Regions from separate parts of the Homo sapiens genome. Here region 2 is linked to region 1. Evidence: fine-mapped expression QTL. Tissue or cell type: pituitary. Region 1 holds a variant in brackets; the other region holds the start of a gene. All regions are shown on one strand. Distances are between the middles of the regions.

Region 1 (8,258 bases):
GGAGATCGAGACCATCCTGGCTAACACAGTGAAACCCCGTCTTTACTAAAAATACAAAAAATTAGCCGGGTGAGTTGGCCGGCGCCTGTAGTAGCCCCAGCTACTCGGGAGGCTGAGGCAGGAGAATGGCATGAACCTGGGAGGCGGAGCTTGCACTGAGCCGAGATCGTGCCACTGCACTGCAGCCTGGGCGACAGAGCGAGACTCCGTCTCAAAAAAAAAAAAAAAAAAAAAAAAAAAATCGGCTGGTGTTGATGTAAAGCTGTTTCTGATTTTAAAATTGGAAACAGACTAATAAATCCCAGAATGACCAACGCAGTCAAACAGAGGAATCTTCTCCCTGTGAGCTAATCTGTGAATTCCATTTTATTTTATTTTTGAGACAGAGTCTGGCTCTGTCACCCAGGCTGGAGTGCAGTGGCGCTTGGCTTACTGCAACCTCCACCTCCCGGGTTCAAGCGATTCTCCTGCCTCAGCCTCCCGAGTAGCTGGGACTACAGGCATGCACCACCACGCCCAGCTAATTTTTTATATTTTTAATTTTTATTTTCATCAAGTACTATTTTTATTTTTAATTTCACCAACTCCCACTCAGTCCCTGGGGCGCCCCCACTCCCACTCAGTACCTGGGGTGTCCTCTGAGTCATGGAACCACTCCTCCCCGGTAACATTCCTGGCATAGTAGAACTGTGGTGACGTGGCAGGGTGTGGAAACAGGGGCAGAGCAGGACATGTTGGCTTAGTGCCCCAAGGAAACAGAAAAGGGAGTTCACCAATACATACTTTGGGAAAGGGGGTACAATCTGATGACCTCAAAGTAGGGCCACAGGTACAGACTTCAGTACATGTGAGTACACACCCACACCTTTATTAAAGTGTCATTCATATCTTAGAACAGTTTCTTTATTTTATTTATTTATTTATTTTATTATTGTTTTTTTTTTGAGACAGAGTCTCCCTCTGTCGCCCAGGCTAGAGTGCAGTGGCGCGATCTTGGCTCGCTGCAACTTCCGCCTCCCGGGTTCAAGCGATTCTCCTGCATCAGCCTCCCAAGTAGCTGGGATTACAGGCACAAACCACCACGTCCGGCTAATTTTTTGTATCTTTAGTAGAGACAGGGTTTCACTGTGTTAGCCAGGATGGTCTCGATCTCTTGACCTCGTGATCTGCCTGCCTCGGCCTCCCTAAGTGCTGGGATTACAGGTATGAGCTACTGCGCCCGGCCAGAAAAGTTTCTAAGATTAGAATGAAGTGATGGGGACTGGCAAGAGCAAGGAAAGGATTCTACAATAAGAGGATGGGCTATTTATTCAATTAATCATTCATTAATTAATTCACTCAATTAACATTATTTAGCCCAAGCTACGTCCCAGGCACTATTAGAGTTCCTGGAATACACAGATGACCATTAAGCCCATCATCAGGCAGGATGGCTCACTCCTGTAATCCCAACACTTTGGGAGCTGAGGCAGGCAGATTGCTTGAGCCCAGGGGTTCAAGACTAGCCTGGGCAACATGGCAAAAATCCTATCTCTACAAAAAATACAAAAATTCGCTGAGCGTGGTGGTGCGCACCTGTAGTCACAGCTACTAAGGAAACTGAGATGGGTGGATCACTTGAGCCCAGGAGGTCAAGGCTGCAGTAAGCTAAAATTGCACCACTACTCTCCAGCCTGGGCGACAGAGCAAAACCATGTCTCCAAAACAATTTTTTTTAATTAAAAAAAGGAAAAGATTAAGCCCCTGCCCTCAAAAAGATCACAGACTAATGAGGGGAACAGACATGTGAATCATTAGAATACAATGTAATAGGTGCCATCATAAAGTTTGTGTAAGTGCTATGGTTTGATAACCATATTTTCAGAATAAAAAATGAGAACAGTCTTTACAACAGACAATATTTGAGATTGGAACTATTCCAGAGACTACAGAAGACATCATCTCCATAGTTATATGAATTGTGCCTGGAAAGAGAGGAATGGGTGTTCAGGAAGACTCCACTCTCCCATAAAATTAGAAAAGAAAGGAAAGGGATTCTAAGGAGAAAGAAAGGCATAGAGGCATGACAGAGAATTGGGTGTTAGGGGAGAGATGCTGGAGTAGTGATGTCGCAGGAGGTGTGACTAGAAGGACAGGGAGAGGCTAAATTATGAAGGATCTGAATACTGAATGCCATGTAGTAGTTACCACCTACTACACATTTACTATGCACTTACTAAACACTGTGCTAAGCAGTTGACAAGAATTATCTCTCTCTGTCTTTTTTTTTTTTTTTTTTTTTTTTTGAGACAGAATGTGGCTCTGTCGCCCGGGCTGGAGTGCAGTGGTGCTATCTTGGCTCACTGCAACCTCCGTCTCCTGGGTTCAAGCTATTCTCCTGCCTCAGCCTCTCGACTAGCTGGGACTACAGGCACCCGCCACCATGCCTGGGTAATTTTTATATTTTCAGTAGAGATGGGGTTTCACCATACTGGCCACGCTGGTCTCGAACTACTGACCTTGTGATCTACCCGCCTCGGCCTCCCAAAGTACTGGGATTATAGGCGTGAGCCATGGCACCTGGCCAATAATTATATCTCTTAATCTTCTACGACCTTAAAAGATAGGTATTATTATCAGTCCCACTTTGCAGATGAGAAAACTGAGATTCAGAGAAGTAAAGCAACTTGTCCAAAGTCATACAGCTAAAAGACCTTAAAGTTCACACTCAAATTCAGGTCTGGCTGGCTCTAAAGCTGTGTTCTCTTTTTGTTGTTGTTTTATTTTATTTTAATTTTTAATTGGCACATAATTGTACATATTTATGGGGCACATAGTGATGTTTCAATACATAAAATGTTTAGTGATCAGATCAGGATAATTAGTATATCTGTCATCTAAAAAATGTATCATTTATTTATTTATTTATTTTGAGATGGTGTCTCGCTCTGTCATCCAAGCTGGAGTGCAGTGGCACGACGTTGGCTCACTACAACCTCCACCTCCCGGTTTCAAGTGATTCTCATGTCTCAGCCTCCTAAGTAGCTGGAACTACAGGCACCTGCCACCACTCCTGGCCAATTTGCGTACTTTTTAGTAAAGACAAGGTTTCACCATGTCAGTCAGGCTTGTCTTGAACTACCGACCTCAAATAATCTGCCCACCTTAACCTCCCAAAGTGCTGGGATTACAGGCGTGAGCCACCGTGCCTGGCCTCACAAATATATAATTTATTTGTCTCCAGCACAAACATTCAATATCCTTCTTCTAGCTATTTGAAAATATTATTGTTAATCATAGTTATCCCCCAGTGATATAGAACACTAGAATTTTTTTTTTTTTTTTTGAGATGGAGTCTCACTCTTGTTGCCCAGGCTAGAGTGCAATGGTGCGATCTTGGTTCACTGCAACCTCCGCCTCCGGGGTTCAAGTGATTCTCCTGCCTCTGCCTCCTAGTAGGTGGGATTACAGGCACCCGCCAACGTGCTCGGCTAATTTTTGTATTTTTAGTAGAGATGGGGTTTCGCCATGTTGGCCAGGCTAGTCTCAAACTCCTGATCTAAGGTGATCTGCCCACTTCAGCCTCCCAAAGTTTTGGGATTA[C/T]AGGTGTGAGCCACCACACCCGGCCAAGAACACTAGAATTTATTCCTCCTATCTAAATGTAATTTGGGGCCAAGCGAGGTGGCTCACACCTGTAATCCCAGCACATTGAGAGGCTGAGGAGTGGGGATCACTTGAGCTCAGGTGATCACCGTGGGCAACATGATGAAATCTCATCTCCACAAAAAGTACAAAAAATTAGCCAGGCGTGGTGACACGAGCCTGTAGTTCCAGCTACCCACGAGGCTGAGGTGCGATGATCACTTGAACCCAGGAGGTCGAGACTGCAGTGAGCAGTGATTGCATCACTGTATTCCAGCCTGGGTGACAAAGTGAGATCCTATCTCAAACAAACAAACAAACGAACAAACAAATGTAATTGGGGGCCAGTGTGGTGGCTCACAGCTGTAATCCTAGCACTTTTGGAAGCCAAGGTGGGAGGACAGCTTGAGCCCAGGAGGTCAAGGAGGCAGTGAGCCATGATCCTGCTGCTGCACTCCAGCCTGGGCAATAGAGACCCTGTCTCAAAAAAAATTGTAATTTTGTGTCTTTTTTTTTTTTCTTTTGAGATGGAGTCTTGCTCTGTTGCCAGGCTGGAGTGCAGTGGCACAATCTCAGCTCACTGCAACCTCTGCCTCCCGGGTTCAAGCGATTCTCCTGCCTCAGCCTCCCTAGTAGCTGGGACTACAGGTGCGCGCCACCACACCCAGCTAATTTTTGTATTTGTAGTAGATACGGGGTTTCACCATGTTGGCCAGGATGGTCACAATCTCTTGACCTCGGGATCTGCCCGCTTCAGCCTCCCAAAGTGCTGGGATTACAGGTGTGAGCCACTGTGCCAGGCCCAATTTTGTCTTTTTTTTTTTTCTGAGACGGAGTCTTGCTCTGTTTCCCAGGCTGGAGAGCAAATGGCGCGATCTCGGCTCACTGCAACCTCCGCCTCCCGAGTTCAAGCAATTCTCTGCCTCAGCCTCTCGAGTATCTGGGATAACAGGCGCCCACCACCACGACCAGCTAATTTTTGTATTTTTAGTAGAGATGGGGTTTCGCCATCTTGGCCAGGCTGGTCGTGAACTCCTGACCTCATGATCCACCCCCTTCGGCCTCCCAAAGTGCTGGGATTACAGGTGTGAGCCACAATTTTGTGTCTTTTAACAAATCTTTCCCTGTCCCTTCCTTCCCCCTGCTCTTCCCAGCCTCCAGTATCCTCTGTTCTTTCACTTCTATGAAATCAACTTTTTAAAAGCGTCACATATGAGTGAGAACATGCAGTGTTTTAACTTTCTGTTCGTGGCTTAAGTCAGTTAACATGTCCTCCAGTTCCATCCATGTTGCTGCAAATGACAGGATTTTCTTCTTTTTAATGGCTGAAAAGTATTCCATTGTGTATATACACCCTATTTCCTTTATTCATCTGTTGTTGGACACAGAGATTGATTTCCTATTTTGGCTACTCTAAGTAGTGCTGCAATAAATATGGGGGTGCATAAATATGGAGTGCAGACGTCTCTTGGATATACTGATTTCCTTTTTTTTTTTCCTCCTAAATTGGCTTCCTCAGGTTGAATTATGTCCTTTCCTTTGGATAAATGTCTATGGCTGTGTTTTTAACCACAATACTATGCTTCCTTCCTCAAGGATTTTTGACTTTATCTTGTAGATGATGTGGAGCCATTAAAAATGTTTGAGGACAGGAGTGGCAAAACGTGGGTTTTTAGAAAGTTTCCTACTAGCAGCAGTGTAGAAAATGGACTGGAGCGGAGAGAATGACCTCTTCTAAAAGAAAATGTGAGCTGGGGGCGCAGGCTTATGCCTGTAATCCCAGCACTTTGGGAGGCCGAAGCGGGCGGATCACCTGAGGTCAGGAGTTCGAGACCAGCCTGGCCAACACGGTGAAAGCTGTCTCTACTAAAAATACAAAAATTAGTTGGGCATGGTGGCGGGCGCCTGTAATCCCAGCTACTCGGGGGACTGAGGCAGGAGAATCGCTTCAGCCCGGGGGACGGAGGTTGCAGTGAGCCGAGATCGTGCCACTGCACTCCAGTCTGGCGACAGAGCGAGGCGAGACTCCGTCCCTACGGAAAAAAAAAACCATATATATATATAAAATAAAAATAAATAAAATAAAATGTGTTGACTTAGGGTTATGGGGGTCTTCGTACCACCAAGTGGACTCATTGAGCAAGGGAGATCGCTGGGTACTAGAGCAAGCGGCCTAGAGCATCCGCGCAGGAGTAGGAGAGGCTGAAGAGTAAAGAGGGTTTAGAGGGTGGGACTGGGAGTCTCTCGACACTCTGTTACTTCTGCCTGTAAACGCCCGACTTCCGCCGCTGGTGGCCACCCGCAGGTAGTGATGTCGAGCGTCGAGCTCCCAAAACCGAGCTGGTGAGGGGCTGCAGGTGGCGGCGCAGTCTCGGTAGGCGGTATGAGTTTGGCTGGGGGCCGGGCACCCCGGAAGACCGCTGGGAACCGGCTTTCTGGGCTTTTGGAGGCAGAGGAGGAAGATGAGTTCTACCAGACGACTTATGGGGGTTTCACAGAGGCAAGATCCGGGCCTGGGAAAAGGGAGGGGAGGAGGCAAAGAGGAGCCCTGAAGGGAGAAACCCCGGACAAAGAAGAAGAGGGCGGGGAATAGAGAGGAGCTCTGGGAGCTGATACTCGAGTTGGGTGGGTGAATCGGAGCCGGGGGGCGAGGCGGGGGAACGGATAGTGTGGAGTCCTAGAAGGGAGAGCTCTGGATGGGGTCAAAGGGGCCTGAGACGGAGAAGCTCTCCGGAGGCACTCCAGAGAACAGAGAACGGCAGAAACCTACCGTATACTTGCGTGGTTGCATCTTTCACTGTACTTCTGACGTCCAGCATACACGAGGCACACACATAGTAGTAGACAGTTGCTCGATGTATACTCGTTGGCCCACTGCTGGATTATTCACCTGAGACATGGAAAGGAACCGCTCCAAAAGTAGAGGAGCTTAGCCCACTTCTTTTTCAGCTTTCAGGTCTCAGTGTAAATGTTTTCTCAGGAAGATAACCCTTCCTTGACTATCCTAACAAGTGTCCCCATTTATTTCTTCCACAGAACATATTTCAATTTGCAATTAGATTTGGTTTGCTTACTTGCTTATGCTTTTCTATTGCATTGTAAACTGTATAAAGTTAGAGATGGTCTGTTTTGTTCAACATTATGTGTGAGGTGTCCGGACTGGGCTGCCACTTGCTAAATTTTTATTAGTTGAATCTACCCGTTTATTAAATGTGTTGAGTACCCAGAGCATGCCATCGGTAATAGGTTGTTTTAGGCTCTAGGGAAACAGAATATTAAAAACAGTGCTCTGTCCTTACATACTCCATGCCCCAGTGGGGTAACTGCCTGGGTTAACAGTTAAAATACTGTGTGATAGGCCGAGCACAGTGGCTTTGGCCGGGCACAGTGGCTCACGCCTGTAATCCCAGCACTTTGGAAGGCCGAGGCGGGTGGATCACAAGGTCAGGAAATCGAGACCATCCTGGCCAACATGGTAAAACCCCCTGTCTCTATTAAAATACAAAAATTAGCCAAGCGTGGTGGTGTGCGCCTATAGTCCCAGCTACTCAGGAGGCTGAGGCAGAGAATCGCTTGAACCTGGGAGGAGGAGGTTGCAGTGAGCCGAGATCGTACCACTGCACTCCAGCCTGGGCGACAGAGCAGGACTCCGTCTCAAAAACAAACAAAAAATGTGTGATAAGGACTAAAACAAGGTGTAAGAGTGTTAAGGTAATACATCTGAACCAAAGTTGTTGATCAGGATAGGCATCCCTGGAGGGATGATGTTTAAGCTGAGGACAGTTTGAAAAGTAGACCTTAGCTTGATGAAAAGCAGGAGAAGGAGAAAGGTTAGTCCACAGAGCAGGATGGGCTGAGTATGTAAAGACATTGAGATCCTGGTCTAGGACCTGCAAGTCTACTTTCATTCTCCAGAGCATGAAGGAGACTAAAGATTGATAAGCCTGCAGGGAGTAGGCATGGGCCAGATCCTTTAGGGCCTTGTGAGCTATGTTAAGGAATTTTGCTCTTCATCCAGAGGACTGAGAAGAGTCATCAGAATTCCACGATGAAATTTGTACTTTAGGAAGGTTACTTACTCTGTAATGAGAATGGCTTGAAGGGGGCATGGCAGTAGAGAAACAGAAAGATTCAAGAGAAATTAAGGAATAGAACCCACAGGACTTAGGGGCTGGGTGTGGTGGCTCACGCCTGTAATTCCAGCACTTTGGGAGGCTGAGGCGGGTGGATCACGAGGTCAGGAGTTCGAGACCAGCCTGACCAACATGGTGAAACCCTGTCACTACTAAAAATGCAAAAAATTAGCTGGTTGTGGTGGCGTGTGCCTGTAATTCCAGCTACTTAGGAGGCTGAGGCAGGAGAATCACTTGAACCCAGGAGGCAGAGGTTGCAGTGGATTGCGCCACTGCCCTCCAGCCTGGGCGACAGAGTGAGACTCTGTCTCAAAAAAAAAAAAAACCCACATCACTGACAGAGTCATTACTGACACAGCCCTAACCAACTAGTTTAAAATAGAACTTTCTCATCCCTCCTCTAAGGCCATTTTCCTATTTCTGTCATTTTACGACTTGTTATTTAATATGTACCCTTCATGCTTCCAAAAAGGATTTAAGGAGGCTTACAATATAAACAAAAAG
Region 2 (8,000 bases), 27 kb after region 1:
TCTACTAAAAATACAAAAAATTAGCTGGGCATGGTGGCGGGCGCCTGTAGTCCCAGCTACTCAGGAGGCTGAGGCAGGAGAAAGGCGTGAACCTGGGAGGCAGAGCTTGCAGTGAGCCGAGATCGTGCCACTGCACTCCAGCCTGGGCGATAGAGCGAGACTCTGCCTCAAAAAAAAAAAAAAAAAAAAAAGGAGTGTGGAGAGCTGTGTACCTTGCAGGCAAGGAGTAGTTGGAATGAGAATGAACAGATCTGAAATCCTGAGATCCAACAAGGAACCAGACTTAAGGAAAGTTAAGTTCTCAGCACCCATTGTAATTTATTTGTGAATGAATGGGAAAAGGGTATCAGTCCAAGGGGAGATCAGGTGGTTCCTCCTCATCAGAGTCAAACTCAACATTTTCATCTTTTACCCATCGACCTCGTCCATCTGGGATCCATCCAGAGCTGGAAACATCAGAGAAAATAGCATCGATCAGGAAAGAGGCTTATTAAGAAGTTAGTGGTGAGCTCACACCAGTAATCCCAGCACTCTGGGAGGCCGAGGCAGGTGGATCACTTGAGGTCAGGAGTTCGAGACCAGCCTGACCAACATAGTGAAACCCTGTCTCTACCAAAAAAAAAAAAAAAAAAAAAAAAAAAGTTAGCAGTGAGAAAAAATTGAGAGCCATGTAAGTTGGGTGGCTAAAACAAAACGAAACCAAAGATGGAAAACAACAATGGGAGTCCGGGTGCGGTGGCTCACACCTGTAATCCCAACACTTTAGGAAACTGAGGCAGGTGGATCACCTGAGGTCAGGAGTTCGAGGCCAGCCTGACCAACATGGAGAAACCCCGTCTCTACTAAAAATACAAAATTAGCCGGGCGTGATGGCACATGCCTGTAATCCCAGCTACTCGGGAGCCTGAGGCAGGAGAATCGCTTGAACCCAGGAGGTGGAGGTTACAGTGAGCCGAGAGCGTGCCATTGCACTCCAGCTGGGGCAACAAGAGTGAAACTCCATCTCAAAAAAAAAAAAAGGAAAAACAATAGCTTTGAAACAAGGGTGTCAGAGAGAAAAGAAAATCTGAGGAAACTGATTAGGCATACTCACCTTCGAAGGGTGAGATAATGGTCCAGGGCTCGTCTTCTTGTGGGGCTCATGGGTGCAGGGGCTGAGACAGTTGCTGACTCCTCGGCCTGTGGGCCAGCCGCAGGTTCAGGTTCCCTACTGATCTTCCCACTTTGGAGTTTGACCTCTGAGGGTGGCATAGGGGAAAGGGAGACAGAGGGACCAGGGGCTTCTGGTCTAGGTAGAGAAGAATAGTCTGTAAAAGCAGTAAGGGAAAGGGCCAACTCTCCTATGACTCCCAACCTCTTAAAACAGTGCTTCTTAAACTATATTTCTCAAGATATTAATAAGTTCTGCATACAAAGGATTTCAGAATCATGAATTTGGGAAAGGCTAGCTTAAAATTTTACAAGTTTTTTTTAATCTTAAGACTTTGTATAGTTTTTAAAACTGTTATTCTTCAAGTAGAATTACAAAGTGCCATTTCCCAAACTTTATTTAAAAATCACAAAATTCTCCTTTTCTTTTTCTTTCTTTTCTTTTTTTTTTGAGATGGAGTCTCACTCTGTCACCCAGGCTGGAGTGAAGTGGTGTGACCGTGGCTCACTGCAACCTCTGTCTCCCGGATTCAAGCAATTCTCCTGCCTCAGCCTCTTGAGTAGCTGGGATTACAGGCACACACCACACACCCAGCTAATTTTTTACATTTTTGGTAGAGACAGGATTTCACCATGTTGGCCAGGCTGGTCTTGAACTCCTGACCTCAAGTGATCCACCCACCTCAGCCTCCAAAAGTGCTGGGATTACAGGCGTGAGTCACCGCGCCCAGCCAAAATTCTCCTTTTCTTGAAACACTAAGTAACATCTCCAGAACACTAGTATTCCTCAGAATACACACTGGAAAACTCTTTTAGAGCCATCTGTCTCCTTCTGAGCCTTCCTACCTCTGGCTTTCCCGTCCCATACCTGTACTTCCGGCGGCAGCAACTGTTATAGTGGGGAGCTCTGTGCAGAGCACTCTGGGTGATAAGTCGTGTCTGAGTTAGCAGAGGAGCCTGGTAAGGAGATGGGAGACAGAGTCAGAGCCTTCAGCCCTCCGCCCTTCCAGCCTGGTGTGTGCAGCAGGGTCTTGCCTAGAACACACTCTCCACTCTCTGATTACCTCAGCTTTGGTTTCTTCCCTTCTCAATTCATTCTGATGTTTTGGATTCTGCTTTCTTTCCTTTCCCGGCTGCTTCTTGCCATAGAAAAGCTGCAAGCCTGAGGAGAAAGGGAAACAGAATTAAAAGCATAGCACCAAGAGTGGTGTGCAGAGATTTCGAGGGTTTATTCCCCATCCCGTCTTCCCCCTAACTTACTGGACAGATGTTTCTTGCCTGCACGGTGGGCAGTCAGCATGGCCAGGGTGTCCAGTACCGGTCGATGGGGGCAGATGGCACAAGCAAAGCTGAGCAGGGGTAGAGAAGAGGATAAGTGGTCCAGGGGAAGAGGGTTGGGCCCGTCCCTGCCATAGGTCCCACCCTGTCCTAGCAGTCTTTGCAAAACCCAACTCCCTGGTGACCCAATCTCCACTTCTTCCAGTCCTCACTGGCCGCCAAAGAATCCTAGGTACTCCTGCTGTCCTAATTAATAACAAAAGTTTGTTGAAGCCAGGCGTGGTGGCATGCGCTTGTAAACCCAGCTAATCGCGACGCTGAGGAGGCAGGATCACTTGAGCCCTAGAGTTCGAGGGCAGCCTGGGCAGCACCGCGAGACCTCCGTCTCAAAGGAAAAAAAAAAAAAAGTCTATTGAGCCTCTAACCGCAGAACCCTCAGGCTTGAGCCACTCCTTGCTCTTACCGTCCATCCCGAAGCATCAGCGCCTCATCCTCTGGAATGTAACTGGCTAGGAGGTCCCCGACTCTTCTTTTCTGCAGGGAGTAGGGGAAGAAATCCGGACGGGATCAGCGGGATAGGAGAGAGGGGTGGAAGTGAAATTATAGAAATGAGGAGTGAAATGGAATAAGGACCCTGGGGAGAACAGCGATCATAGACCGAAAAAGGAGTCACTACACAGCTCTAAGTCGCCTGGTTCTCTCCTGCACCCCCGAGTTGTTGCCAGAGCAATGAAACAAAGCTCCTTCCCAACCTTCAGGGAGCGACTGAAGCGGCTCCAGATCCTCTCCGCTCACGCTTACTTTGAGCACATTGAGTTGACTCCAATCGTCTCCTTCCCTCTTGAAAGACATCACGACTGTGAGTCCCAGAAGTGATAAATTCTCTGTTCCGGTTTCGCCACTCCTCCAGGCCACCGTAGCAAGAGCGGGACAGCGCCTTCTCTTTTTTCCTTCTCTTCCTGTCGGCCTCCGTACTTCCGGGGACGCACTTCCACGCATGCATTGCGCGATCCGGAAATCCACTCTCTGGTGCTCGGAGGGAACTGCATTTCCTATGGTGCCCTGCGACTCCGCAGACGCGGAGCCTTTTGGGAAATGAAGTCTTTTCTCAAAGACCTTGCCGCTCAACTGGATCCAGGCCCTTGCATCTTGGCGGATCTGAGGCGTTTGGAGGGACAACAACCTAGATGTGGAGCCGAAATTTGAGGGTGTGACCTATCTTATGCGGAGCGGACCTTTGAGGATCTCTGAGTGGAAGGTGTACTACAAATTCTTGCAATCCTCACGCTCTTCGTCTGCGGCGACAGTTCACCTGGGGTGGGCCTGATTTGTTCCTGACTCTAGCAAACAAACCCCGGGACCGGGGAGAGCTGGGATGTTGGAGCGCCCTGAGGCCAGGCTACTTGGGGGCAAACTGAGGAAAGAGTGTTGAGGATTATTTCTAGAGTTCAAAGGTCAGAGGTCAATGTAGCGAGGAGTTGTGGGGGAGTCCAAAGTCGGAGGGGTGCTTAGGGGAGAATTAGGGAGGGACTGAATACTCAAGGGACAGATTTGTGGATAAGTAGCTTGGAGGGAGGAGAAACCGGGAGGGGGCAGATGGCGTAGTGCTGGGGAGGCGGGGACACAGGGGAAGAGAGAGGGGGAAAGGAATCCCCTGAATATTCATTCCCAGACTTCAGGCCTGTCAGTCGCAGTCTCGGTCGTACCTCCCCTAGTTGCAACCTTAGCTGTTGGCAGGGTGAAGAGATGGCTTCCCCGTCTAGACAGCCCCCGCCAGGGGGGTCAGGACTGCTTCAAGGGAGCCGGGCTCGTTCATATGGAAGCCTGGTGCAATCGGCCTGCTCCCCAGTGAGGGAAAGACGCCTGGAGCATCAGTTGGAGCCCGGAGACACCCTGGCTGGACTAGCACTCAAATATGGGGTGACGGTGAGTTTTCCAGGATTGGGGTGAAGACAACAGTCAGGAGGGATTTAGTCCTGAGAAGAATGTAGTGGCCCTTCTAGGTAACCTCCCCTGAAATGTTCCTAATGTGTTGCACTCTGTTCTGCCTTTATCTTTGTTTTCCCATCACAGTGTTGCACAAGTCCTGCCCTACTATTCCAACGGAGAGGAACAGCTCCTATTTTATTATGCCAGACACTGTGCTGAGGGCTTCACATACGTTAGCTCATTTCACCCTCACATCTGTATCAAGTATACATTTATCGTTCCCTTTTGGCAGATGAAGAAACTGAGACTTGGATTGGTTAACCAGTTTGGCTAAGGTCAAATAATGAGCGTCAGATTTGGGATTCAAACAGGTCTGTCTGACTCTATTAACCACACAGAAAATTTTATGTTGAGAGTGATTAAACGTTTACAGCAACTAATGGAGAGCTGATTTTTAGTTCTCAGTTCCTAAAGTGCCCACCTCTCCTTGCTCTTGGTTCCTCCTCAATGCTCTGCCTTCTTTCCAGTAAGGTGGCCTCCTTTGTGCAAAACAGGTACTCTACACCAAGTATTTCAGGTCATGCATGGGGGAAATTGGATAGATGTAAAAATGTACAGCATTGAAGTTGATGGGGTTACTCCCCCTATCCCTGCCCCTGTTTTCTTGTTCCATCTCACTCAAACAAATGTTGAATTTAGCCAACATTTTTATGCTTGCTGTATTTAAAGCACTGTGATAACTTTTCTGGGAGATAGAAACTTAAACTATATGGTTGCTGTCCTCATGTAATTTATGGCCTAATGAGAAATGAACAGGGACACAAATAATGATTACAAGTGACAGAATGTGGTGAGTTTGTAAAGGTATTAACAACGAATAGGGGTCAGGCATGGTGGCTCACCCCTGTAATCCCAGCACTTTGGGAGGCAGAGGCAAGTGGATCACCTAAGGTTACGAGTACGAGACCAGTCTGGCCAACATGGTGAAACCCTGTCTCTACTAAAAATACAAAAATTAGCCGGGCGTGGTGGTGCTCACCTGTAATCCCAGCTACTCAGGAGGCTGAGGCGGGAGAATCGCTTGAACCCAGGAGGGGGAGGTTGCGATGAGCTGAGATCGCACCACTGCACTCCAGCACTCCAGCCTGGGCAACAGAGTGAGACACACACACACACACACACACACACACACACACAAAGATAGGAAATCAGAAAAGATTAAATTTCAGTTGGAAAGGGGCTGTGGTGGGCCAGGCGTGGTGGCTCATGCCTGTAATCCCAGCACTTTGGGAGGCTGAGGTGGGTGGATTGCTTGAGCTCGGGAGTACAGGACCATTCTGGGCAATGTGGTGAAACCCCATCTCTACAACAAATACAAAAATTAGCCGGGCATGGTGGCATGTGCCTGTAATCCCACCTACTGGGGAGGCTGAGGCAGAGGATCACTTGAGCTGGGGAAGCGGAGGTTTCAGTGAGCCGAGATCGCGCCACTACACTCCAGGCTGGGCGACAGAGTGAGACCTTGTCTCCAAAAAAAGAAAGAAAGAAAGAAAGAAAATACGAATACACTATATCTGTAGTTTCTATATTTCATTATCTAATTATGATAATAATTACATAATTATAAGTAATAGTTTTTAAATAAAGCATTAATGAGCCCCTGCTATGTGTCAAGGTCTGTAGGATGCTAATGACTTCCTGGGGATACAGAGACAGCAAGTCACAATCCTTGCCCTTAAAGGACTTATAGGGTTTAGGCAAAGCAGATATTTAAAGAGGTGAATAATATTATAGTAGGGTTATGTATTATTATAGCAATATTTACAGTATGCATTGGGAGCCCTGAAGAAGGTAGCACAAAGGGAGTGATAGTTGATGAATACAAGTTTTCCAAGCAGAGAATGGGATAGTAGGGGGGTGGGAGCATTTCAGGCAGAAGTAACAGCATGAATAAAGTGTGAAAAAGATCATGGAATGTTCAAAGAAAAATAAAAAGTTCAGGATAGCAAAATGTAGAGGTGGCAGAGGGAGATTAATCTAGACATTTCCTTTGGGAGCTGGATTGAGAAAGCCCTTGAATGCTAATTTGGTTTTTATCTTTTAGCCAGTGCGGAGCCATAGGTGGGTAGTGGGTTAATCAGATTTATTTTTTTAGAAAGATAGATGCCAAGAGGAGGATGAGTAGAAATAGAGCGAGGAAGGCCAGTTAAACTGTTGCAATAACCCCAGATGAGAAATACTGAGGGTCTATTTTAAATCTTTGGCAGTAGGAAGGTGAGACCAGATGTGAGAGAGATTTTTGAAGCAGTTTTGTTGACCACTTGGTATGGTGATGAAAGGCAAGTATTAGTTAAGGATGACATTGATGTTTCTACCTTGGGAGGCCAGGCAGATAGATGGTGATGCCAGTCACTATGTCCAGTGATGAATAAATAGGTCAAAATAAATATTTATTAATGACATTGTTAATAGTATAGTGTGAAAAGCATTCTCAGAAGCAGTGAAAAGACCCAGGATTGTCATTCTAGCTCTGTCATTAACTTGATAGATAATTTTAGGAAAGTAGCTTAACCTCTCTGAGCCTCAGTTCCTTCATTTTTATTTATTCATTAATTTATTTATTCATTTATTTTTAATTTTTTAATTTTTAGAAATGGCGTCTCACTATATTACTCAGGCTGGACTCTAATTCCCGGGCTCAAGCTATCCTCCCTCCTCAGCCTCCTGAGTAGCTGGAATTATAGGCATCAGACATTGCGCCTGGCTTGCACAATAATTTTTTAAAATGTAAGGGGGCCCTAAGACCAAAAAGTGTGAAAACCACTCATCTATAGAATAGAAATAATGTCAGCCCTTTGTACTTTAGCTTGGTTGTTATGGAATCAAAGAAGACTCTGTACAGTCACTTTAAAAAGCTCAAGATGTAAGATTGATCATTATTACTGTCCTTAATTTTGGTGACTTTTTTTTTTAAGATGGAACAGATTAAACGTGCAAACCGCCTTTATACTAATGACTCCATCTTCCTGAAGAAAACCCTCTACATCCCCATCCTGACAGAGCCCAGAGACCTGTTCAATGGTTTGGACTCTGAGGAAGAGAAAGATGGAGAGGAAAAAGTACACCCAAGTAACAGTGAAGTTTGGCCACACTCAACTGAGAGGAAGAAACAAGAGACAGGAGCAGGACGTGCCAATGGTGAAGTCCTCCCCACACCTGGCCAGGAAACCCCCACGCCCATCCATGACCTCTCTGCCTCTGATTTCCTTAAGAAGCTTGATTCACAGATCAGCCTGTCCAAGAAGGCTGCTGCTCAGAAGCTGAAAAAAGGGGAAAATGGGTGAGTCTTGAATGGTTCCTTATAAGTTCCTCCCTAGACTCCTCCATCATTCCTGTCTTACCTAACCACAAACACAAGTAAGTAAGGACAGTGCCAACAGAGGCAAGGTGATACCTTTCCCCCATGTGGCCCCAAGATAATGAGCAGAGGTGATGGCTGCTGGCCTGGGTAGAGGCAGTGGAAAACTGGGTTCTGTGTTCTTATTGGAGTCAGACAGTTAACTATTTTTTTTTTTTTTTGAGACGGGGTCTTGCTCTGTTGCCCAGGCTGGAGTGCAGTGGCGCGATCTTGGCTCACTGCAAGC

Direction of the effects. Alleles are on the strand shown, and positions count from the first base shown. SD is a standard deviation of normalised expression in the study named.
In carriers of allele T in region 1, the expression in pituitary of the gene that starts at base 3,530 in region 2 tends to be lower than with C alone (moderate effect, 0.67 SD a copy in GTEx).

Evidence for each region. PIP is the estimated chance that this variant, and not a neighbour inherited with it, causes the effect.
Region 2: it holds the start of LYSMD1, and the variant in region 1 is fine-mapped to the expression of LYSMD1 in pituitary (GTEx, PIP 0.99).

Annotation. Positions count from the first base shown.
Region 1 is chr1:151,187,868-151,196,125 of GRCh38, reverse strand. It overlaps VPS72 (vacuolar protein sorting 72 homolog), which reads left to right and starts at 5,929. Exons shown (of 6, transcript NM_005997.3): 1 at 5,929-6,121. The coding sequence starts at 6,005. It also overlaps a transcript of PIP5K1A not described here. RefSeq lists enhancers at 5,785-5,844, 5,885-5,954. The variant C/T (reference allele first, on the strand shown) is at 3,583.
Region 2 is chr1:151,161,432-151,169,431 of GRCh38, reverse strand. It overlaps LYSMD1 (LysM domain containing 1), which reads left to right and starts at 3,530. Exons shown (of 3, transcript NM_212551.5): 1 at 3,530-4,353; 2 at 7,332-7,696. The coding sequence starts at 4,174. It overlaps TNFAIP8L2-SCNM1 (TNFAIP8L2-SCNM1 readthrough), which reads right to left. Exons shown (of 7, transcript NR_144937.2): 2 at 2,891-2,961; 3 at 2,410-2,498; 4 at 2,214-2,311; 5 at 2,018-2,106; 6 at 1,094-1,283; 7 at 1-446. It overlaps SCNM1 (sodium channel modifier 1), which reads right to left and starts at 3,288. Exons shown (of 7, transcript NM_024041.4): 1 at 3,229-3,288; 2 at 2,891-2,961; 3 at 2,410-2,498; 4 at 2,214-2,311; 5 at 2,018-2,106; 6 at 1,094-1,288; 7 at 1-446. The coding sequence starts at 3,279. The coding sequence ends at 347. RefSeq lists enhancers at 3,240-3,289, 2,636-3,342, 3,310-3,589, 3,343-4,048.